Linked DNA regions of Homo sapiens. The protein of the gene in region 6 purifies or fractionates together with the protein of the main gene of each other region. This does not show direct contact. Each region holds a gene or a part of one and is shown on either strand. Other genes may lie near its edges.

Region 1 (2,908 bases), on a different chromosome or scaffold from region 6:
AAGGAAGAGTTAGAGGGACCAGGGGTGTTTAAATGTGAGAAGAGTTGACCAAGACAGAATCTGAGAAGTATTTTCATCTATTTTAAGAGCTGGCATCTAGCGGAGGGATTAAAGACCACCAGTGGGTGACATACAGAAATGGACTTTAACTCAACTGAAGAATGCATCTTCTAAAACCACAGACAGCAGGGGCTTGTAAGGAACTGAGCTCCTGGTCACTGGAAGTGGGCACTAATGACTAGGTGGCTGTCTGTCTGCAGTGGTAATCATGAGAAGGATGGACCGCCCCCGCTCTCTGCCGCCACAATACAATATTCTTCATTAAGATTTGATGTGTCTAGAATTCCACAGTTCCTGTGCATGCCCAGTGTCTAGAGCTTGCTATTAAGTACTTGTTTACTTTTGTACAGAGAATGGCTTCAGGCAATAGGAATAAAGAAATCACACAGCTGAATACACCAAGTTATTACACTTCAAAAGAAAACTTTAACACTGACACATGTGATATCTTACCATTTATTATAATTGCGCACATTAGTGTGGATTAAGTATGATTAGAAACACTAAGCAATTGAAAAGAAGCAAAAAGGTAATGCATCCCTCTTCCTCAGATCTGCAAAATTCTGTGCCTTTTTAGACATGAGAGAGGCTGTTTTGGATCTAAGTCAATAATGGCTCTTGCAAGATTTCTTTCAATGTCTTGCATGTTGGTTCTAAAACTCCCTTAAAGGCAGACTATACCTTGAACGGGGGAAGCCAGCCTATCTTGGGCCTCTTTACCTTGCCTTTCATCCACTGGTCCTGCACTGAGACTCAGGGATAGCACCTCTCACCAACGGGGTGACTTTTATTTCCTTCACTCATTCATTGAGTGCCTGTGTGTTAGTGTCCACCACGTGCCAAGTCTGATGTTGGGGACTACAGCTGAGGAAGAGCAGTTGGTATTTAGTGTGGGTACATGCCCTCCAGAGGAAATCCACTACAAATAAATGGAATGTTCCTCTCTGATCATTTGGCAGGAAGAACAAGCCCACAAGCCAATGTGCATAGGGCTCAGAAACTGGAGAAAGACGTAGACATTTTATAATTAAATCAAGAGCAGAGGCCCTCATTTTGTATCAGAAATACTCTAAGGTTGTTCTTCCTTTCAAGGAACTTACAGAGTGATGCTGGGCCCACAGATGGCAGAGTCCAGCTGAACCTGAGCAGAGGATCGGCTGACTGCATGGACAGGCTTACATCTGCCCAGCCATCCAACGAGTTTCCATGTCCCAAGTACCTGGGGCCCCAGCAGTTGCCACTAGCTTAAGGCAGAGTCTAGACAGGAAAATGGGTCACTGAAAGCTCTCTGCTCAGATCAGCTAGCCCCCTGGAGCTTTTCCTGGATTCACAAGCTCCTCTTTGGTAATGTCTGTGAGTCAAATCTGTTCTCAGCTGAAAGCATCTCAGTTTGGAGGCATTTTCATGGGCGGAGAGGAGGGAAAGGGGCAGCTTGGCCCTTGAAGTACTTCATGGGGGGGGGGATAATTCAGGGATCCAGGATGCCCAGAGGAAGAGTGTGATTTCACACCTTCTGCTCTTTGCAAGCCTATGCCTTTGGGAGGCCTGAAGGGAGGGTGTTAACCTGGCAGGAACTGTGTACCCTCTGCACAGTGCTTGGCACACACTGAGCACAAAATCAATGCTTGCTTTTGTGGGTGCTGCTCTGGGAAGAGCATGGGCTCTGTAGCGTTCTGCGCAATGCAATAGCCACCTCTCTGAGTTCCAATATCCTCATGTCTAAGATGGGATGAGAATATCACCTTCACAGGATTATTATGGGGATTAATGCCATTACTCTGTGACAGTGCCTGCTATGTGGTAGAGCCTCAAGAAATGTTAGCTGCTTTTCCACCTCCTTAATCCTGCTGGGATCTATACACCCTAAAACCCACTTGGGAAGATTTATGTGTGAAGTTCAGGGAGCAGAATTGAGGGCAAATTAATCAGCTATCAAGATTCCAACAGACACAGATATCACTTTGATCAGTAGCATCCTAAAATCACATCCTACTGAATTTAAACCTAATTGTGTAAATTTTCCAACACATGCCAACATACCTGTAAGGGAACACTCAAATATAGTGAAAGGTGAGTGGAAGACCAAATGAAAAACTGCTATATAACTCAATCAAAAGCAACTAACTACTTTTACAAGTGTATGGAAATTTAAAAAAAATAGATATGGCAAATAGACAAGCTAAACACTAGCCTATGCCAATCCCTAGCATTTGATGTCTGCAATTTACCCACCAGGGATCATCAACAGTCTTCAACTTGGCCCATTATAAGCCTCAAGGGAGTCAGGACACACTGAACCCTACACTTCTGCCCACTTAAACTCATTAGAAAGCCAATCTGTCTTAGGGAAGCCAAGATGGAATTCCTGTTTGATCCTCTTTGGTTGAGCCTGAAATGACATCATGGGCATAAAGCGCTTTCTAAGCTACAAGAAGCTACACACACAAGCAATTATCATAGCATCATTAAGATACGATATTGGATGTATGCAACTTCAACTTGAGAAGGGCAAAAGCATGAAGAAATCAAACAGGGAGGGAGGAGGTGAGGGAAGGGGAGACAGCAACTTGGGGCAAAACTGGGGACAGCCAAATTTGTCCACGAGTCATCAGCTTCTGATCAGCCTGGCGGTGGGGGGTCGCTAAAAGAAAACAGAAGTAGCCATGAGACTGGAAACACATCAGCTAGAGGCCCTCAGGGTGGGTGACTGCTCCAGTCATCAGGAGTTACCACCTAGCTCAAGGTGTGTCTTCTGGAGAGAAGACCATCAGCATGGAGCTAGTGGAAAGCCTGGTTGCTACTGCCTTCAAGGGATATATTCTGCTCTGTGCTCAGACACCGTGATAAA
Region 2 (3,500 bases), about 120 Mb from region 6:
TAAGACCTCATCTCAATAAAAAATAATAATAATAATAAAGGCCAGGAGCAGTGGCTCACACCTGTAAACCCAACACTTTGCTTTGGGAGGCCAAGGTGGGCAGATCCCAAGGTCAGGAGTTCAAGAGTAACCTAGCCAACATGATGAAACCCAGTCTCTGCTAAAAATGCAAAATTAGCCAGGTGTGGTGACGCATGCCTGTAGTCCCAGCTACTTGGGAGGCTGAGGCAGGAGAATCACTTTAACCCAGGAGGTGGAGGTTGCAGTGAGCCAAGATCATGCCATTGCACTCCAGCCTGGGTGACAAGAGCGAAAGTCCACCTCAAAAATAAATAAAATAATAATGATAAAATAAAATAAAAGTAAGCTTCATCACACTCACCGTGGAAGCCAGCATTGATCCTCCAAACCAAACTGCATATCGCTGCATGTGGTGTGTAATGACTTGTACATCAATAGGTTTTGGCTAAAGAAAGACATAGTATGATCATCTTCATAGTAAATTCAAATAACAACTTCTGTGTCATTTAACCTTAAATGTACATATACAAAAATAATATCTGTACTAAATTCAGGTGGTATCTTACAAACCAGAAACAATTGAGATTGGCTGTCTCAGAGGAAAGGGGTTGGGAACACTGTGGAAGAGACAGGGAGGGAACAGAGCAGAATAAATGGAAGGGAAATAACAATGAGCACATGTTTTATACAGTTCTGACTTTAAGAATCTAAATGTTAGTGTTTTACATACTAAAAAATAACACCTTAAAAGAAGGGGAGGTTGGGGCAAAACAAAGTACAACAAAAACAAATTAAACTAATTGTACTTTTTTCAAACATAAGCACACTAAGGTGAGGAAAGGGACTAACACAAGCAACTTGTGAGCATAGTATTTTGAATCTTATAAGCCTTCAGGCTGAAGATAAAATATAAGCAAATATTGAATTCTAGTTTTGGGTCTATTTTTCACAGTGGTGTGGATTAACAATTCTGAAACTATCATATACATATTCCAGGATTAAGCAAAAACATAAACATATTATAGATAATAGGAGCCAGGTTTCTCACTGTCAGAGAAGGGCATTACAATATGGAAGGGCAGAAAACTAGAGTGAACCTTCTATAACTGGAGACGTCTGTAAAAATTCATGGTTTTAATTTATGTAGAGAATTAGATATAGATGTATAAACACACACACACCCCTAGCTCTAATCACTGAGAAGGCCTAGACTCAGTGATACCCCAACAGCAATGAGCACAAAGCTTGGTTTCTTAGTAACGTTCTCCACTAACAGGAATAAGACAAGGGTGTCTTGAAGAAAGAAAAGGAGAAAAAAAGGGCTGATTCCAGGGCCAGAAAAGAGAAAGTACAAGATCAGCCTGAAACACCTTGCTGTGCCGGGAAGTACAGAAGTAGGCAAAAAAAAAGATGTGGCTGCATCAAAAAAAAAAACCTAAGAGCCATTTGAATAACTCCCACTGGTCAAATCTGAAAAAAAAAAAAATGTGGGATTAAAATTAATGATGAGTGGTATTACTGATATTATGATATTACAGTGATATTAAAGATATAGACCACAAAATGAGAAATCAGGAGTTCATATAGATATTACTAAAAGAATAAATGAATGTGGGAGAAGGGAAAACTCTTGCTTATAGTAAAACAAGTCTTAAAAACATAGAAGGAATGACAGAAATTGCAAAACTCCATTTAGCAACTACCACAGTAATAACTGTTTTAGGGAAGAATCACAATGGATGCTAAAAACTAGTGACTGAAACTTAAAAGAGAAACAGGATAGTCTGAAAGTGTCTCCTCATTAGATTCTTATTAAATATAAAGGAAAACATAATAACTTTATAGTGAAAAAACCTGGCAGACACAACTTCAACCAAAAGCTCAAAATTCACACACAGGACAAATTCTATCATGTGTCTACTGATACAATGCACTAAAAATGATACAATATCAATTCTGTGGCATCACTGCCAAAAGTACATAATCTGAACCTACTCAAGCAGAAATATTAAACAAACCCAAGCTGAAGGATATGCTACAAAATAAATGGCTGTACTCTTCAAAAATGTCACATTCATTCATGAAAGACAAAAAACATTGAGTATGTAACAGACTGAAGCAACACAATAAGTAAATGAAACATGCAATCCTTGATTGGATCCTGGATAAGGGGGAAGAAGGTATTTTGTTTTCCTTTTGTTATAAGGGACATTAGTGAAACAACCGGTAAAATTAGAATCAGTTCTATAACTAGATAACACTGGATCAAGGTTAATTTCATGATTTTGATAATTGTAATATGTTCTTGATTTTAGAAATATACTAAAATGTTTGGGGATAATGAACCATCATATCTACAATTTAGTGTGTGTGTGTGTGTACACACACCTATTTATAGAAACAGAATGATATGGCTTTTTTCAAAACTGTTTGGTTGCCATTAAAAATTACAGACTGAAGGAAAATAAAGCCAGAGATAGATAGATAAAGGCATGCTATTAAGATCTATAAAAGTTACTAGCAAGTAAAACTAAGGTGAAGAAGGCAGAGTCCTCCAAAACACAAGGTTTTTCCTATACATGATGAGCATCCCAAGTCTGAAAATCCAAAATGCTCCAAGATCCAAAAACTTTTTGAGCACCAACATGATGTTCAAAGGAAATGCTCAGAATTTCAGATTTTTGGATTAAGGATGTTGAACCAGTATATAATGCAAATACTCCAAAATCCAGAAAAACTCAAAACCTGCAACACTTCTGGTATGAAGCAATTCAAAAAAGGGACACCCAATCTGTTTCTTTCAATATGTCGATACGGTACTGATCACTGGGTAAATTTATTTCTTATTTACAAGTGTAAAAAGAGCTTAAAAATGTTAAACAATCTCACTTTTTTAAAATACTATACTCAGAAACATACAGCATTGTTTTGTACTTATATATCTGTAATGAGTTATTAAAAACTAAACAGCTACTTTAATACATCCATAACCATACCATTAGGACAATCAACTTCAATCTTTTAAGTATTCTAACAAAAAAACCAGAACATGCACTATGTTCATTCACATAATCAATGTGGTTAGTAGGATTCTCAGTACAGAGAATTTATACTTGCAAAACCCAATGACTTCTTTTTTAGGTAGGAGGTAGGGTAGATAGATATGTGGGTAAGGGGAGTAGACGGATGGGCAAATGAATGGATGAATGGGGGTGGGCTGGTGGTTTGGTTGGTTGGGAAGGGGATGCAAAAGCAAACACAACATTTTAAAAGTCTATTGAGTAGACTTCCTGAAGTGTGAAGTCATGACATTATAGGGACAGAGTTCAATATTTTGCCTTCCACCCAAAACATATACTTTTTACTGCATTCCTAGGGATAGGTTTACTCAAGATAATCAAAATATAGGCACTGACAACAGTCAGCCATCATGCAATTTCTCAACAATCAGCAAACCCTAGAGTGCTGTGCTTTACTTT
Region 3 (3,500 bases), on a different chromosome or scaffold from region 6:
AAAGCATTATTTTAAATAAAACTTCAAGCCAGCATTAAGAAAAAAAATGGAATTAAAAAAGACTAACCAATGAAAAGAAATAGAAATTAGAACTAATTCATTATAATGTCTGGTTCAACTAGATGTTAATAAGAAACCTTTTGTTTAAAGCTGTTGCTGAAAATCTTTCTAATCAGTACACTGTCTAAACAGTGTGTCTAAACAGTAACACATTTCAGAGCATGTGTTAATAGTAAGTATAATGAAAATCATTTCATTTTTTCTTGAAGATTCTAGATAGCTTTCTAATTTTTCTCCTAGAGAATGAAAACAGAAGAAAACTTCTGGTTGTTTGTGGATTCCAGTAATTGGGTTTTAGTTTTGCCACACTGGCTTTTGAAAATGTAATAGGAGTTGATAGACTAGTATAATCCAGAGTAACAATCTGGGAAGTAGATGGCTATAGTGGTAGGAAAATAGTGGCCTGGATCCTGGAAACACCTTAGAAAACTTGCACTCAGATGGAACTTAATCCTGGTTGTCACAGTATCCAAACTTTTGTCCTGCTACCTTCCGAACTCCTCAGAGACTGCTACCTGATTTGAACCCAGATGGACCGACCTCAGCTGTTGTCCAGTTAAAAAAAATACAACACTTTGGATTGCAAAACAAAACAAGACTTGTCCAAATGAAAAGTCCATCTTCAAGGCTTATTCATTCATTCAACAAATATTTATTTAGCATTTACCAAGTCTTTGGCAGTATTCCAAGTGCTGAAGATATAATGTTAAAAATGACAGACAAGGCCGAGCGCGATGGCTCACGCCTGTAATCCCAGCACTTTGAGAGGCCAAGGCAGGCGGATAATGAGGTCGAGAGATGCAGACCATCCTGGCCAACATGGTGAAATCCTGTCGCTACCAAAAATAAAAAATTTAGCTGGGTGTGGTGGCAGGTGCCTGGAGTCCCAGCTACTTGGGAGGCTGAAGCAGGAGACTCTTGAACCTGGGAGTTGGAGGTTGCAGTGAGTCAAGATCGTGCCATTCCACTCCACCCTGGGTGACAGAGTGAGGCTCCATCTCAAAAAAAAAAAAGACAGACATGGTCTCTACTCTCATGAAATTTCCATTCCACTGGAGAAGCCGGACAATTAAAGACTGTGATTAGTGGTGTGAAGGAAATACAAAAAGAGTAACTGGAGTTGTGGTAGGAACAGGGACACGAACAGCTTCTTTAGGCAGTGATCAGGGAAGGCCTCATTGAGTGAATGACATTTGAACTGAAACCTGAATGATGGGGAGAACATATGCAGCCAGCAAGGTGAAGACAATAGATGGGGGAGTTTTCCAGGTAGAGGAAAGCAAATGCAAAGGCCCTGAGGAAGGAATAATACAGCTAGGAAGTAAGTGAGAAGCATGCGATGACACAGAGATGAGTAGTAGTCAGATTAAATACGGATTAATAACAATGCTAAAGGATTTTAATTTTATTCTATGTGTGATACAAAGCCAAACATTATTATATAAAAGTGTGTTTGCAAGATCAGATATATTTCATGTACTAAATGAGTACTTTGGCCAGGTGCGGTGGCTCATGCCTATAATCCCAGCACTTTGGGAAGCTGAGGTGGGCAGATCACTTGAGGCCAGGAGTTCTAGACCAGCCTGGCCAACATGGTGAAACCCTGTCTCTACTAATAATACAAAAAAAAAACAAAATTAGCCAGGCGTGGTGGCGCGTGCCTGTAGTCCCAGCTACTCCGGAGGTCTGAGGCATGAGAATCACCTGAACCCAGGAGGTGGGGGTTGCAGTGAGCTGAGATTGCGCCATTGCACTCCAACCTGGGACAGAATGAAACTGTGTCTCAAAATAATAAAATAAAATGAGTTCTTAATTGTTTATATGTGCATAATGGCCACAAAATGAAAAGGAAGGGAAAGGTTCTCATACCTAAAAGGCTTGTAATCTTACAAGGAAGCAATAATTTATAAATAGTGACAACATTAAGTAAGGTAAGAAATGAAGCAAAAATCAAGTGTTAAGTATAAAGACTGGGGAGGCAGCCACTGATTCAAGTAGAAGAAATTAGAAAAGGCTTTTTTTTATTAAAAAAATTTAAAAAGGTAGCATTTGATTTGGGCTCTTAAGGAAAAGGATTTCAACAAGAGGGTGGGGAAGGGGAGGAGCATGAGGCTGTGGTAACTGCATGAGCAAAGGCACAGAGGCAGGAAAGAACTGGGCAGGTCCAGGAAACAGAGAATTATTGTAGGGTCACAGTGCCAGGTGGGTGGGTCGTGTTGTGGGAGATAAGCCTAAAAGAATAGGCTGTCAGAGTGGGGGTGTGGGTGTCTTGAAGAGCATGTCAGAAAGCTAGACTGAATTTACTTAGGCATTGTCTCCCCTTAAGTTTGTATATAAATCTCTTGAGGTACTTGATAAACTTCAGGTTCCCAGGCCCATCCCTCAGACACACTGATCTGCAGGTCTAGGTGGGACCTGAGACTCTACCTTTTTAACCACTGCCAGGTAATTCTAACACAGGCAATTAAAGGAACCATATTTTGAAAATCAGTGCTTTTTTTTTTTATGACAACTCTGATAACTTTTCTGCAAGGGAAAAACTGAAGCCAACTCTAAGGATTACTCAAGGACTCAAGGACTCTGGCAAAAAACTAAAAGGGGAATCTGAATTAGAAGACTGATTAAAGAACTCTTATCACCCCTGGGGCAGAATCAGCCAAACTTGGGGATTGATCAAATGTGGGTGGAGAAAAGTATTAAAGTGGTAAGTACAACCTCAAGCTTTCTCCTTAGTGAATCTGGGTGTACGCAGATGCATGGCGTACAGGGACTATCCACATAGCCTAACAGGTAGCTGGAAATACAGATCTGGAACTCAGATATACAAAGGCATTAAACATATTGGTTTGGTACTTCAAAGTAAGTTCAATACAAATTAAAGAATTAAATATAAAGTGTAAAACGGTAAAAATCAGAAGGAAATGAAAGTGAGTATTTAACCAATCTCTGGATGGTGAAGGCCTTCTAAACATCACAGCACCAGAAGAAATCTCAAATTTAAAAATCCAGGCTGGGTGTGGTGGCTCACGCCTGTAATTGTAACACTTTGGAAGGCCGAGGCGGGCAGATTACCTGGGTCAGGAGTTCAAGACCAGCCTGGCCAATATGGAGAAACCCTGTCTCTACTAAAAATACAAAAATTAGCTAGGCGTGGTGGCATGTGCCTGTAATCCCAGCTACTTGGGAGGCTGAGGCATGAGAATCACTTGAACCCTGGAGGAGGAGGCTAGAGTGAGCCGAGATTGTGCCACTGCACTCCAGCCTGGGTGACTGAGTGACACACTGTCTCAAAAAAAAAAAAATCTATAGATAAGTAATAATATACTATATACAAAATTAAAAGGCAAACTGGTTAAATATTTGACCACAGGACAAAAAATTAATATTCTTAGAAGAGTTTATACCAATCTCAAAGAAAAACACTAAGAATGGTTCTGTAT
Region 4 (3,500 bases), on a different chromosome or scaffold from region 6:
AGGTAAATTTTGTGGCAAAGCTGAATGACTAAATTTTTAAAAAATCTCAGCAGCTTACCTTGACTTCCTGTTTCATAACATGTAAGAACTAAAAAAGAATTATAAAGATGGTGATAAATTTAAAATATTTGTGTAACACTTCATCTAACCCAGGTATACAAATTTACTACTGGAATGTCAATCGTATCAATACTTGTCATTTGTAGTAATGAAGAATCCCCATCAAGACTAATTTTGACAACATTTTGTTTCTGTACACTTCGTAATTTATTTGACGTTATGTTGGTTAAATTACCTTTCCATTGTGCTTCCCCACCCCCACACAAATATTTGGGTTAGATAATAGAAGAACACCAGCAATTTACAATTACATACCTGTAATCATTTAATTTTCAGTCATTAGTTTAAGTCAAATTTTCATAGGGGTTAAAAACTAAATCAGAGAACTCATTAAATAATGAGTTAAATAATTTTTTAAAGTTTTGTTTTAAATGTTCAGTCCACTTTCCTGAGAAAAAGTGTAAGTGGATGATAGGAAAAGGAGAGAAGAAGAAAGAAGATGTAATGGCTACAAAAACAAGACTAATCAAGCTGTAGCAACTTGATAAGCAATGCTGAAATGTCTTTAGTTATTTTGTCTCTGGTTAGAAATTAGACATAATGAATTTCAGGGTTAAACTGCTGAAACTTAAATATAATTTTTTTCCAGAGTTCCATCAGTTAAAAAAATACTCTCTCAAACAATGCTTTTAAATTTCACCTACATTTTTGTTGCACTGTAGCCATTATATCTTGTACATTCTTCACAGAATACGTCCGTTTCAACAATGTGTTTTCCCAACTAAAGAATACCAGGGCAACAGAATGCAGTTATCTTGAAATGCACACCTGTTACGAAGCCAAAAGACTGTATCATATATTCCCTCCAACTGAAATCACAAACTTTCTGAGACATTTTTCTCTGACAAAGAAGATACACTGAATGAGGTATCATCAGGCTCCAGTGAGGCATGATTGAAATCCATTTCCTCTAATTCAGGAGGTAAATCTGACAGCAGTGCCTGAATAAAAAAAATAATATTTTTGGATTAGTATGTGGATAGATTGTTTTCCAATTTATATTAATAGTTGTAGTCCTCCCATGGTGAATTATCCTTATGGATTTAAAGAATAATTTATATTTCAGGATCTTAGACAATGCCTTACCTAAAAGAAAAATTCTTCATACATTATTCAGAAGGTAACAAAATTCTAGATGTTGAAAGTGTGAATTCTGTAGAGTAGAACCTGTACAAAGGGGATATTAGGAGGGAAATGAGCAACTCTTCTGAACCAAGTGCTTTGAAGTGTTTGAGGTTAGTGATTTTCATACTAGTTTTGAGTGTGCATTGATCACTGTTTAAGGGATTTAAAATTGCGTTCTTTGTTAAAATATTCATGCCAGTTATGCTGTCCTTTGTAGAAGACTGCATTTAACAAAAGACTATTTTGTTCTTCAGTGGGAGAAAGAACTTAGTAGTTAGGAAAAACCTCCAGCTATTTTACTTTAGACTAAATTTTAACAACTTGAAAAGACCAAGTAATTTTATTTTTTCTTTCCTAAGGCTATGTTCATACCTACAGATGGCCAAGCACCCACCAGGGCACAGCTGAATCAGTGGATCTATCTGTAGTAATGATGTATCTGGAGGGCTACTCATTTCTCTGCTTGAGTAATAAGGATAATCCAATAATGATGAAATAAGCTTTGTCATGGTCTAATTGTTTTATCTGAAGTTGTAGAACATGCACCCATTCTAAAGAAATAAATGATTAATCAAGTTTTACGCAGCTGACAATGCTAATGTTCACTTGACCATGAGGAACTTTGAACTTAATGATTGATTTGCTGCTTCCAATACTAAGAATAATGTAGCATATCTGGCAATTTTTAGACAGTATTACTTGTAATGTGGGCTTTGGGTGCAGTGGTAAATAAAGACCAAGGGAACAGGAAGAAATGAAAGCTTGTCACTAGCCAATTAAGGAACAGAAAGGGCATGTTGGAGAATATATGAAATCCACTGTTGAAATAAGACAGTATGCACTCATTCTCTTTATTAAAATAAGTGGCAGCTGCAAATCCTATACTTCCTGCCTTGTAGCACAGGGGCAAGATCAAAACATTCTCATTTTTATCAGGCTATGTAAGGGAAGACTAACCCCTATCTGGCAGACTAGCTGTTATTATTTATTTTATAAAATTGAATTTCTCATTAATTTATTGCTGGAACTGAGAGTATATACACAGTAAACTAACTTAAAGGTAATGCCTGCTTTCTAAGTGGCTAGATTGCAGTAATAGGACACGGAGCCATTTTCTCCTAGAAAAGTGTTTTACCACTAACCCAGTCCCAGTGCAATGGGGTCTTTTCTGACATTGGCTGATCAGTCTATATGACATACATCACTGGATTTAACTCGCTTTGCAATTCTGAAGATGCCATATTAAAGAGGAGAAAGTGTTCAAATTAACATTGACTGAACATGTTCTTAGAGTCAGAAAGTCAAGAGAATAAGATTTCATGATATTCTAATTTCTAATTTCTAGTGGGGAGATTACAAATCAAAGAAGCATTATTATTTATTTCTTTGTTACTGCATTATAAGTAGTTGAGTAAAATGAGTGCAGTAAAAAATATAAAAATTTTAATATCTGAGGCAGCATAGGGCACAACTAATACATGTGGTCCACTTTAAAATTCTTCTTTCAATATCTTACTAGATTTGCAACTGAAAAAAATCTTTGGATTATAACAATTGTTGGAACTGCCTTTTTCACAGATACTAACGTGAATACGATTAACTTTCTTTATTACAAATGTTTCATAAATGACAACTATCCTCAGGGTCTGACCTACGGTCATTTTTCCCAAGAGATTAAAGCATTTTCCATATGCTCAGATCTATAACACTTATTCTAGACCCTATGGTATGAATATCAAGTTCTGTAGTATTAATCATTCTTATCCCACTTGCAAAGTGGAGAAATTGAAGTTCAAGAAACGCAATTGATCTGGCTAGGAACACGCAGTGAATTATCAGGGGAAGCAAGACCATAGCAAATGACTAAGTATAATGCTGAAAATATTACTTTGATTTTAAAGTGGCTATTGATTTAAATAACAACAACAACAAAATCTTTGGGTAATCTAGTGTTTCAGTCAGAGAGTATCACATTTTGTAAACCCTGGACTACTTCAATGGTCCAAAATATTCTGTGGACCACACATCTGACTCAACTTACACAAATCAAGATTAATGGAAGAAAACTGAAGATCTTTTTTAAAATTAAAAACCAGTGACATGTGGTTGTCTTTTATTAGGTAGAATAAAAATTAACTCCTTCCAGAAATAAACCTATAAATATTTCATGATGTAAAGATCAGTAGTTTAAGCGATTACCTAGATAACTTTTTTGGACTACTATTCGTGTCTTCTATATTTTGTGACCATATTCT
Region 5 (3,394 bases), on a different chromosome or scaffold from region 6:
CTCTCAAATTTCCTGTGATGTTACATTACATATAGATCTCGTGAACAGCCTGAATTTAGATAATACCTATAACCAAGTTAGTTTGTGTGATTCTCACTTGGGAAAGAAGGATGTTATCAGGATCCTTTTTTTTTTTTTTTTTTTTTGAGTTTCACTCTTGTTGCCCAGGTTGGAGTGCAATGGTACGATTTTGGTTCACTGCAACCTCCACCTCCCAGGTTCAAGCGATTCTCTCGCCTCAGCCTCCTGAGTAGCTGGGATTACAGGCACCCACCACCACGCCCAGGTAATTTTTGCATTTTTTTTTTTTAGTAGAGATGGGGTTTCACCATATTGGCCAGGCTGGTCTTGAACTCCTGACCTCAGGTGATCTGCCCGCCTCCCAAAGTGCTGGGATTACAGGCATGAGCCACCGCACCCAGCCGCGTTATCAGGATCTTTATCCCTCAAAGCAGCCTGGTCAATTCTTTTCCATTTAGGGAAGAAATAAAGAGACAGAGAAGGAGTGAGAGCATTTTATTGCCTGACTAAATCACAGAACACAGAGTTTCCTAGGAATTGCATGAGGTCAGAAAGACAAATGCAGCTGTTCTCTCACTTTGAACTTAGTTTCTAACTCTGCTATCTCTAGTTATTAAAAATTAAGACCAGTACTAGCTCCTTAAAGTTTTTGGTTCCCTGATAATAGCTAAAACAAAACAAACGAAAAGGCAAGGCAGAGAACCTATTTGGTCTAGCGTTCTTTTCAGCTATATCTAATTAAGAAACAACCCCATGGCCAGGTGCAGTGGCTCAAGTCTGTAACCCCAGCACTTTGGAAGGCCGAGGCGGGCAGATCACGAGGTCAGGAGTTTGAGATCAGCCTAACATGTTGAAACCTAGTCTCTACTAAAAACACAAAAATTAGCCGGGCTTGGTTGCACGTGCCTGTAATCCCAGCTATTCAGGAGGCTGAGGCAGGAGGATCACTTAAACCCAGGAGGCGGAGCTTGCAGTGAGCCAAGATCACACCACCGCACTCCAGCCTGGGCAACAGAGCAAGACTCCGTCTCAAAAAAAAAAAAAAAAAAAAACACAAACCAACCCCATGGAGTTGGATAGTATTCAACCAACACCATGTGAAAGGAAGAGATTTGGTTGGGGCTAAGATAAAGCTGCCAAACAGAATAGGTCTAAGATAAAGCTGCCAAACAGAATAGGTCAGTTGTACCTATCAGATAACTTGGGGTTACTACATCTTATTCCTTATCTCAATGATGGTAACAAGGAAGGGCAAAATGGGCCTGTGGTTCTTAGAAATTAAGAGGGGGTAACATTAAGGGGACAAATGTTTTACTCTGATGCTTGACTTCACCCCAATACTAGTCCAGGCTCAAGTAACACAGGATGGCTTCTGCAAGGATATTAAGCCTTAAACAAAGGAATGAATTTAGCATTAGCACTAATTACATAGTACTTCATTGTCCACTTTGGTACCCCAGTTTGTTGGTCTCTATCCTTGGCTCACACTAGTCATACCGCAAGGAAAACAGGAGATACCACAGATCAGAGCTATAACACCTTACTTTTCTCCCAATCTCCCTCTTATTTCCTTCTTTTTTTTCTCTCCTGCCTCAGCCTCTCGAGTAGTTGGGACTACAGGCATGTGCCACCATGTCCAGCTAATTTTTGTATTTTTAGTAGAGACAGGTTTTCACCACGTTGGCCAGGATGGTCTTGATCTCTTGACCTTGTGATCCACCTGCCTCGGCTTCCCAAAGTGTTGGGATTACAGGCATGAGCCACCATGCCCGGTCTACTTCCTTCCTTTCTAAGAAGTCTTTCTTCATGTCAAAGCCAACTTCTGCCCAGGATCTGAATATTTAGAAATGCATTGTCCAATATAATAGCCACTAGCCACAGGTAGCCAAATTTAAATGAACTACAATGAAATACAATTAAATTTTAGCCCCTCAGCCACACTAGCCATGTTTTGAGTGCTTGACTGCCACATGTGGCTAATGTACTAGACATCATTACCAAAAGTTCTGTTGGAAAGCCCTGCTCTAAAGTAAATTATATTGCCTATATAATCTTCCTACCAATACACTCTTTTGCCCCTGAAAATGACTCCTCCTCTTCACTTCTTAACACTCAAAATGTACCCTCAAATTACTAAAGTATCAATGCATGTCCCATTTTCAGTTATCTTCCTTCTTAGCCTCTCTGTTGAAAAACCACTAGAAAGCATCCAACCCGGAACTTTTTAAAGAACTACTCAACCGTCTTCTTTCCCTCCAATCAGTTCCATTTGGTTCCTCCTCTTACATAACGTTTTCCTCATTGTTTAATTTTTTTTTGAGACAGAGTCTTGCTCTGTCACCCAGGCTGGAATGCCGTGGCACAATCTCAGCTCACTACAAGCTCCGCCTCCCGGGTTCACGCCATTCTCCTGCCTCAGCCTCCCAAGTAGTTGGGACTACAGGTGCCCGCAACCACGCCCAGCTAATTTTTTGTATTTTTAGTAGAGACGGGGTTTCAACGTGTCAGCCAGGATGGTCTTGATCTCCTGACCTCGTGATCCGCCCACCTCGGCCTCCCAAAGTGCTGGGATTACAGGCGTGAGCCACCGTGCCTGGCCTCTTTTTTTTGTATTTGCAATTGTCCTTCATGGTTCTAATTTACCTCCATGGCATAAACTACCTGTACCCCATATGGATTCCCAACTCTCTTATGTCAACCTCTCTGCCTCACGCCCTAGAATTTTGTTTTCACCCAGATACCTGCCAGATTGTCAGCCGTATCTTCTTTCCCTTCCCCCAGCTCCCCAAACCAGGACAACATGATCTCCCTACATCTTTAACCCCACCACTTTCCTACTCTTTTTTTGGGGGGGGTCTCATTCTGCCACCCAGGATGGAGTGCAGCAGTGTGATCACAGCTTGCTGCAGCCTCAGACTCCTGGGCTCAAAGGATCCTCTGGCTTCGGCCCTCCAAGTAGATAGGACTGCAGGCACGCACCACCATGTTTGGCTAAGTTTTTATATTTTGTAGAGACAGGTTCTCACTTTATTGCCAGGCTGGTCTCGAACTCCTGGATTCAAGAAATCCTCTCACCTCAGCCTCCTAAAGTGCAGGGATTACAGGCATGAGCCACTGCACCCGGCTAATTCTCCTACTCTAAAAACCAGTCATCCTTGTCTTTCCTCCTCACATCAAGTGGCCAGGCCTTTCACAATGCCTGTCTTTATTTAGTGCTATCTCTCCTGCCACTACTCTAGCTCAGACCCTGATTATTCTCTCCTAGAAAACTAAATTAACCTAACCCAATTTTTTCCAAAGTGTGGTGTATTCACTGCTATAGTTACTTTAATGTGATTAGGAAAAAACACTAACACATCAAAACTTTGATTTC
Region 6 (3,500 bases):
TAAGCTAGCAATCCCAAATAAAACAAAGTATGAAGCACAAGATGCTCCATGAAGACTACTTTAAAATAGTGAAAAACTGTATGATAATTATGACAATGACCGTAATATATTAACTAAAACATTTAGCACTTACTGTGTGTACTTTGTAAGCACTCAACTCTTTCAATCCTCTCAAGTCTATGAAGTTGGCACTAGTTATTATCCCTATTTGACAGACAAGAAGACTGAGCAGAGAAAGACGAAATACCTTGCCCAAGGTCCCACTACAGCCTACTGACTTGCCTAGGAGCACAGTTAGGCAAACTATAATGTCACATAGATTACTATGTAGCCATTCAAGGCAGTTTATAAAGAGTCTACAAATCTCAAGGTTGGGCAGGGGTAATGGAAAGCAGGATACAACTACTTATCTACAAAATAATCATTATTAGGTTTAAAAAGAAAGGCACCCAAATGCTAACAGTGATTAACACTGCATGCTGAGAAGACGGATACTGTTTTGGGTCCCTTCTGTCTTCACTTTTGTATTTCCCCAGTCCCAATAAATGCATACTGCCTTTTATAAAGGAAATACAGTTCTTATAAACAAGGTAGGGAATGTCTGCAAAACCCCTGTCCAAAAGAGTAATAGTGGTAAGTGTACTACGAAAGAAACGGTCCACAAGTGCTCTGCTTCTCTGCATCAAAGCCACTATAAATAATGATACAGACATCCTGCAATCTAAGTAAATCTGTAGCACTGAGAAAACAGGGAGCTTGAAGTCTTCAATATATGGAAATATTGCAGTTACAGTGTATGACACATTGACTACAGCAATGTACTGTCACAGACATAGATGACAAAGAGATGCAGCTTTAAATGTGACCACAGGATTCATGGGGGTAATTCGCCACGTAACTGCTCTATTTGGGCAACTGGGTTCTCAAGAGTCACAGAACGGATTATAAGGAAACAATGAGTTGTCTTATGGGTCTCCTGAAACAAAATATCCAGAAACAATTTAGCCATAATGTTAATACCTTCTTCAGGAAAATTTTCAGTTTTCTCTGTGAGAATTTCCTTCGGTTTTATAACTGGCACTAATCAGAATTCACTTGATAACTTTTGCATTACAGCCAACTAATTGATACTCTATACAGTCTAGAAAATCAGGGATACTTATATTATTTTCTCACCACATTTACCAAAAAGTCCCTTTACAAAAAATCATGTTTTTCTCTAAGTTACATAACCTAAAACATTCCTGTATGCAATATTTAGAACATAATGTCTAGAAATAAAGAAACATTCAACTCTTGTCACTAAAATAAAGCTTTAGAGTTCTGCTGGGTGGTACTGTAATTAAAATGACTTTTAGAAATCCTTTTTCTCTTGTTAGCGAGTTACCTGTTATCATCATGAGAATCCTGAATTAAAATTGAGCTTCCATTTCTGAGCCCTTGCTCCCTGAACGTCTTCCTCATGTCTTCCTTGGGGATGGCCGTCCAACCCTCCCCACCTGGACATCCAGCACTGTTGATGAAGATGACACCTGCTGGGATTGCTAAGGCTGTGAGGACAGTGCCCACTTCTGCATTAGCTGGAAAGACATGTGGAGATTCTATCACCTGACAACACTTTTCTCCATCACTGCTTGTGTCTAGATGAAGAACATTTAAAAGTAGAGGTTCGCAGTCAATACCAGTTTGAATGTGGACTCCACCAACCTGCAATCATACCAAGACAACCATTAGTACAGCTGATATTTGCCAACACCGTCAACATAACATGGTAAAAGATTACTCTTAGAGAACAACCCTCATTTTTTCCAAGTAAAATAAAATTTTCACAAATGTCTGTTAAGCATCAGAGGAACAACTTCAGATTTTTCTTTTGAAACTTTCTTATCTTTTATTTTTTTAGGAGAAATCTATGATAGACTGGAGATAGACATTTATGAGTTATCATGGGTGGTGATGAAGCCAGATTGGCCAAGGTCAGTTCACAGAGTGGCTGAAGTGCTCCTGGCCGCCTTCTAGAGATAGAAAATTCACTCTCTACCTCCAAACCACCCCCACTCCCCAACTCAGTATAGATTCTCACTCTTCTAAATTCCCACAGGCACTATGCACAGACCCCCTACTCCAGCACGTATGGTGCAGTTCTTCACACGACGAGGGCCTAAAAGGACACAGATCAACTGACTGGCCTTTGATCTAGCATCTGACGCACAACCTGGTATAACGGAGGCGCTCAAGAAATGTCTCCTTGGCGTACAACTAGCACTGATTGTCCCTAACATTTATCAAGCATTTCAGTAGTTTTCTAATATCTAATTGCCCTCACATAGGCTGAATAAAATTTCATTACAATGACTTTTTTTTTGAGATGGAGTCTTGCCCTGTCACCCAGGCTGGAGTGCAGTGGTGTAATCTCAGCTCACAGCAACCTCCACTTTCCGGGTTCAAGCGATTCGCCTGCCTCAGCCTCCCAAGTCACTGGGATTACAGGCATACGCTACCATGCCTAGCTAATTTTTGTATTTTTAATAGAGATGGGGCTTCACTATGATGGCCAGGCTGGTCTTGAATTCCTGACCTCAGGTGATCTGCCTGCCTCGCCCTCCCAAAGTGCTGGGATTACAGGCATGAGCCACCATGCCCGGCCATTACGATGACTTTTAAAACATCCAAAATTATCACGAATATTTCTTCAGTAATTTTTTTTACCTCCACCCCATTCCACACAAAGATGTCTTCCCCATCAGCAATTTCAGTTTCACACAGTGTCAGTTCATCCCCTAGAAAGAGATCACCAGTGAGACCATTCATCATGACCATCAGAAACAACTGAGCTAAAGAAAGAGCTGAGACAAATATTTGTTTGAAAAAGTATTTTCACTAAGGAAAATTTAAAAAGTAGTAATTATTTTTATTCTATTGACATTATTTCATTGTAATTTTTCTTTAAAACGTTGTGACAAAAGCTTGTGAGCATGGTGGCAGGACAAGAGAGATAATCCAAAGGTCAAGTGTACTTGAGGCACATGACATTGGAAACAGGAGTTAGGCTTAAGCATGGAATGGTCCCAACTCCACCGATATGTCCATAACACAAGCTGTATTGTGTGCTTCAAGTCTCTCAGCTTCAGTTTTCTCATTTATGAAATGGAGATAAAAGAATTTTATGAAAATCAAGTGAGATAATTAACATAAAACACCTATTACAGATTTTGGCCCAAATTAGATGTTACTGCCGCTACTGTTAATTCTCATTGTTTTCCTGCTATTTAAAGGAAGTAAATGCTTTCAAACTCTCAAAGTATTTCTTGTTTTACTACAAAATCTGAAGCTGAGAACTGGGCAGAAAATCAAGTCACATAAATATGATTCAGATGGTTTGAAACTATGTTGTTCAACAATATGTGTCAATATAAAAAATTCTAAAGCTTTTCAAGAAATTTTAGTAGAGGTAGCCTTAATTTCAGAAAAAATAAAATGTTTCCATGTTAGAAGAATTT
Region 7 (3,500 bases), on a different chromosome or scaffold from region 6:
GGTACCACACTGACCTGCTAGAATGTCCACTGTCACTCTCACGTGAACTATACTTGAAGGGCCAGATGGGACTATAAAATAATGGTAAGCTCCTTCAGACTTTACCTGAAATGTTGATAACTGGTGAAAATAAATCAGCTCAGGGGGTTCACAACACTATTCTGTCTACCTGCATGTGTGTATGTTTGAAATGTTAGCAAAAAAATAAACTTTATCAGGGCTGGGTGCAGTGCACTTTGGGAGGCCGAGGTGGGAGGATCACCTGAGGTCAGGAGTTTGAGACCAGCCTGGCCAACATGGTGAAACCCTGTCTCTACTAAAAATACAAACATTAGCCGGGCATGGAGCCGTGCACCTGTAATCCCAGCTACTTGGGAGGCTGAGGCAGGAGAATCGCTTGAACCCAGGAGGCAGAGGTTGCAGTGAGCTGAGATGGCGCCATTGCACTCTAGCCTGGGGGACAAGAGTGAGACTTCATCTTAAAAAAGATAAATAAATAAAAATAAATAAATAAATAAATAAACTTTATCAGGCAGGGTGCGGTGGCTCACGCCTGTAATTCCAGGACTTTGGGAGGCCGAGACAGGTGGATCACGAGGTCAGGAGTTCGAGACCAGCCTGACCAACACGGTGAAACCCTGTCTCTACTAAAAATACAAAAATTAGCTGGGCATGGTGGTGCACGCCTGTAATCCCAGCTACTCAGGAGGCTGAGGCAAGAGAATCGCTTGAACCCAGGAGGCAGAGGTTGCAGTGAGCTGAGATTGTGCCATTGCACTCCAGCCTGGGCGACAGAGCAAGACTCTGTCTCAAAAAAATAAAAATAAATAAATAAATAAACTTGGCTGGGTGAGGTGGCTCACACCTGTAATTCCAGCACTTTGGGAGGCCGAGGAGGGCAGATCATGAGGTTAAGAGATCGAGACCATCCTGGCCAACATGGTGAAACCCCATCTCTACTAAAAAGACAATAAATAAATAAATAAATAAATAAATAAATAAATAAATAAATAATAAACTTTATCTGCTGGGTGCGGTGGCTCATGCCTGTAATCCCGGCACTTTGTGAGGCCGGCGGGTGGATCACCTGAGGTCAGGAGTTCAAGATCAGCTTGGCCAACATGGTGAAACCCCATCTCTACTAAAAATACAAAAATTAGCCAGGCGTGGTGGTGGGCGCCTGTAATCCCAGCTACTTGGGAGGCTGAGGCAGGAAAATCACTTAAACCTGGGAGGCAGGCCGGGTGCAGTGGCTCACGCCTGTAATCCCAGCACTTTGGGTGGCTGAGGTGGGCAGATCATGAGGTCAGGAGATCGAGACCACCCTGGCTAACATGGTGAAACCCCGTCTCTACTAAAAATACAAAAAATTAGCCGGACGTGGTGGCGGGCACCTGTAGTCCCAGCTACTTGGAGGCTGAGGCAGGAGAATGGTGTGAACCTGGGAGGCGGAGCTGGCAGTGAGCTGAGATGGCGCCACTGCACTCCGGCCTGGGCGACAGAGCGAGATTCCGTCTCAAAAAAATTTAAAAAATAAAAAAATTTTAAAAAACCTCACTCTGAAAGGATAAATAAAATGTGGTATATCCATACAATGGAATATGATTCAGCCTTCAAAAAGAAGGAAATTCTGATGCATGCTACAACATGGATGAATCTTAAGGACATCATGCTAAGTGAAATAAGCCACACGCAAAAGGACAAACACCGTGCGATTCCACTGATAGGCAGTCTCCAGAGTAGTCAACTTCATAGAGACAGAAAGTGGAATGGTCGTTGCCAGGAGCTGGCGAGTGGGGAAGGGCAGAATTTGTGTTTAATGGATGGTGGTGGTGGTTATCCTACAATGTGAATGAATTTAATGCCGCTTAATGAAATGCAGATTTTAAAATGACTGAAATGGTACATTTTATGTATTTTGCCACAGTTACATACATGTGGCCAGGCGCGGTGGCTCACGTCTATAATCCCAGCACTTTGGGAGGCCGAGGCGGGCAGATCAACCGAGGTCAGGAGTTCAAGACCATCCTGGCCAACATGGTGAAACCCAGTCTCTACAAAAACACAAAAATTAGCTAGGCATGATGGTGTGCGCCTGTAATCCCAGCTACTCAGGAGGCTGAGGCGGGAGAATCGCTTGAACCTGGGAGATGGAGGTTGCAGTGAGCCAAGATCACGCCATTGCATTCTACCCTGGGCGACAGAGTGAGACTCCATCTCAAAAAAAAAAAAAAAAAATACATGAATCAACTTATGAAAAAAAGATCTTACCCAGCTCGTTCTCCACCATGTTCTTTATGTGGCAGGTGGCAGGTGTGTGTTGAATGAATGACTGAGGATGGAGCTTACCAGCCACACATCATCCCCACCCCATCCAAGGGCAGATGTGACTGGAGTGACTTAATGCTGCTGCCTGCAGGACTGTCTTGCCTCCTCTCTCTCAGCCTCCTGTGGGTGACTCCGGAGCCCGTTTGAGTCCCCACAGCCATGCATCTGCCCATTACAGTCCCAATCCAGATGAGTATCAACCCACCTCCCTTCCTGAACTGAGCCATGCTCAGTCCTGAATGACATTAGCTATTTCCAAAATACTAAATTCAAAGCATGGAGATGTGACTCTGCTGTGATTCTCAGGGACCAATCCACAGGACCTACGGGCCATTCCCAATGTGTGGAGATTCAGACAGTACCCCTGGAACAAAGGGGCTGCTCCCAGGGAGATGCTGCTCCCAAGGAGATGGTACACACTGCCTGCAGATGCTCAGCACTGGCCCAGGCTCACCCATGCCGCCTGCCTCACTCCTGTGGCCCCTCAGAGTGCAGAACAGTGTCTAATCGCCGAGAAACCCCAGGGCAGGGGAGGGGGAGCCTGGTCAGTGAGGGTCTGGGTCTAGATGGAGTTTCTCTTCCAATCTAGAGCACAAGCTTCTCCAAAGTAGTCTTTTTCCACGGCCAGAGGCCAGAGCCCCACGTGATGAGGTGCCAGGCCTCATGCTCCATGGCACCCTGTGCCCATGCAGCTCCCCAGAACAGCCACCACTGTCCCTGAGCCACTGATCTCCCCACAAGGCCCAGGAACACAGGGACCATTCTCACTTCCCTGACCCAGAGACCGGGAGCCTTGGCAAAGAACTTACAAAGATAGACTGCTCCTTCAACCGCCTCTTGGCCTCTTCCGCTTCTAAAGTCTGCTGTTTCCTCCTGGAACGATAAGCAGCCAGCACCCGTCAGGGTGCGCCCGGGGGCCCCTGGAGCGCTCCGGGCGGGCAGGCTCACCTGTGCTCCTCGATCTGCTGCTCCCGCTCCCGGTAGCGCCGCTCGCGCTCCTCTTGCTCCTGCCGCTCCTGCTCCATCCGCTCCTGCTCGAACCTGAGCCTCTCATCCAGGGCCTTCTTCCGCTCCTCCTCCTTCCGCAGCTCTTCTTCCTTCTGCAAGCCCCGGTGCGAACAAGGGTAGGCCCCGAGCCTAGGCGCCTGGACCCTGCCCCTCCAGCCCCTCCC

The links.
Region 1: the proteins of USP40 (region 6) and ZNF185 purify together in Homo sapiens (affinity purification with mass spectrometry, with the first as the bait; one large-scale study listed by BioGRID). This does not show direct contact.
Region 2: the proteins of USP40 (region 6) and ACTR3 purify together in Homo sapiens (affinity purification with mass spectrometry, with the first as the bait; one large-scale study listed by BioGRID). This does not show direct contact.
Region 3: the proteins of USP40 (region 6) and LIMA1 purify together in Homo sapiens (affinity purification with mass spectrometry, with the first as the bait; one large-scale study listed by BioGRID). This does not show direct contact.
Region 4: the proteins of USP40 (region 6) and HDX purify together in Homo sapiens (affinity purification with mass spectrometry, with the first as the bait; one large-scale study listed by BioGRID). This does not show direct contact.
Region 5: the proteins of USP40 (region 6) and TPM3 purify together in Homo sapiens (affinity purification with mass spectrometry, with the first as the bait; one large-scale study listed by BioGRID). This does not show direct contact.
Region 7: the proteins of USP40 (region 6) and DBN1 purify together in Homo sapiens (affinity purification with mass spectrometry, with the first as the bait; one large-scale study listed by BioGRID). This does not show direct contact.

The regions. Positions count from the first base shown.
Region 1 is NC_000023.11:152,971,067-152,973,974, reverse strand, and holds the end of ZNF185 (zinc finger protein 185), read right to left. Parts: intron 2,702-2,908; 3' UTR 501-2,701; downstream 1-500. UniProt on the Homo sapiens protein: May be involved in the regulation of cellular proliferation and/or differentiation.
Region 2 is NC_000002.12:113,952,589-113,956,088, reverse strand, and holds part of ACTR3 (actin-related protein 3), read right to left. Parts: intron 467-3,500; coding exon 383-466; intron 1-382. UniProt on the Homo sapiens protein: ATP-binding component of the Arp2/3 complex, a multiprotein complex that mediates actin polymerization upon stimulation by nucleation-promoting factor (NPF).
Region 3 is NC_000012.12:50,273,521-50,277,020, forward strand, and holds part of LIMA1 (LIM domain and actin-binding protein 1), read right to left. Parts: intron 1-3,500. UniProt on the Homo sapiens protein: Actin-binding protein involved in actin cytoskeleton regulation and dynamics. Increases the number and size of actin stress fibers and inhibits membrane ruffling. Inhibits actin filament depolymerization.
Region 4 is NC_000023.11:84,320,954-84,324,453, forward strand, and holds part of HDX (highly divergent homeobox), read right to left. Parts: intron 1,062-3,500; coding exon 936-1,061; 3' UTR 1-935.
Region 5 is NC_000001.11:154,161,313-154,164,706, forward strand, and holds the end of TPM3 (tropomyosin alpha-3 chain), read right to left. Parts: 3' UTR 501-3,394; downstream 1-500. UniProt on the Homo sapiens protein: Binds to actin filaments in muscle and non-muscle cells. Plays a central role, in association with the troponin complex, in the calcium dependent regulation of vertebrate striated muscle contraction.
Region 6 is NC_000002.12:233,521,783-233,525,282, forward strand, and holds part of USP40 (ubiquitin carboxyl-terminal hydrolase 40), read right to left. Parts: intron 2,781-3,500; coding exon 2,710-2,780; intron 1,708-2,709; coding exon 1,388-1,707; intron 1-1,387. UniProt on the Homo sapiens protein: May be catalytically inactive.
Region 7 is NC_000005.10:177,463,635-177,467,134, forward strand, and holds part of DBN1 (drebrin), read right to left. Parts: intron 3,429-3,500; coding exon 3,277-3,428; intron 3,202-3,276; coding exon 3,138-3,201; intron 1-3,137. UniProt on the Homo sapiens protein: Actin cytoskeleton-organizing protein that plays a role in the formation of cell projections. Required for actin polymerization at immunological synapses (IS) and for the recruitment of the chemokine receptor CXCR4 to IS.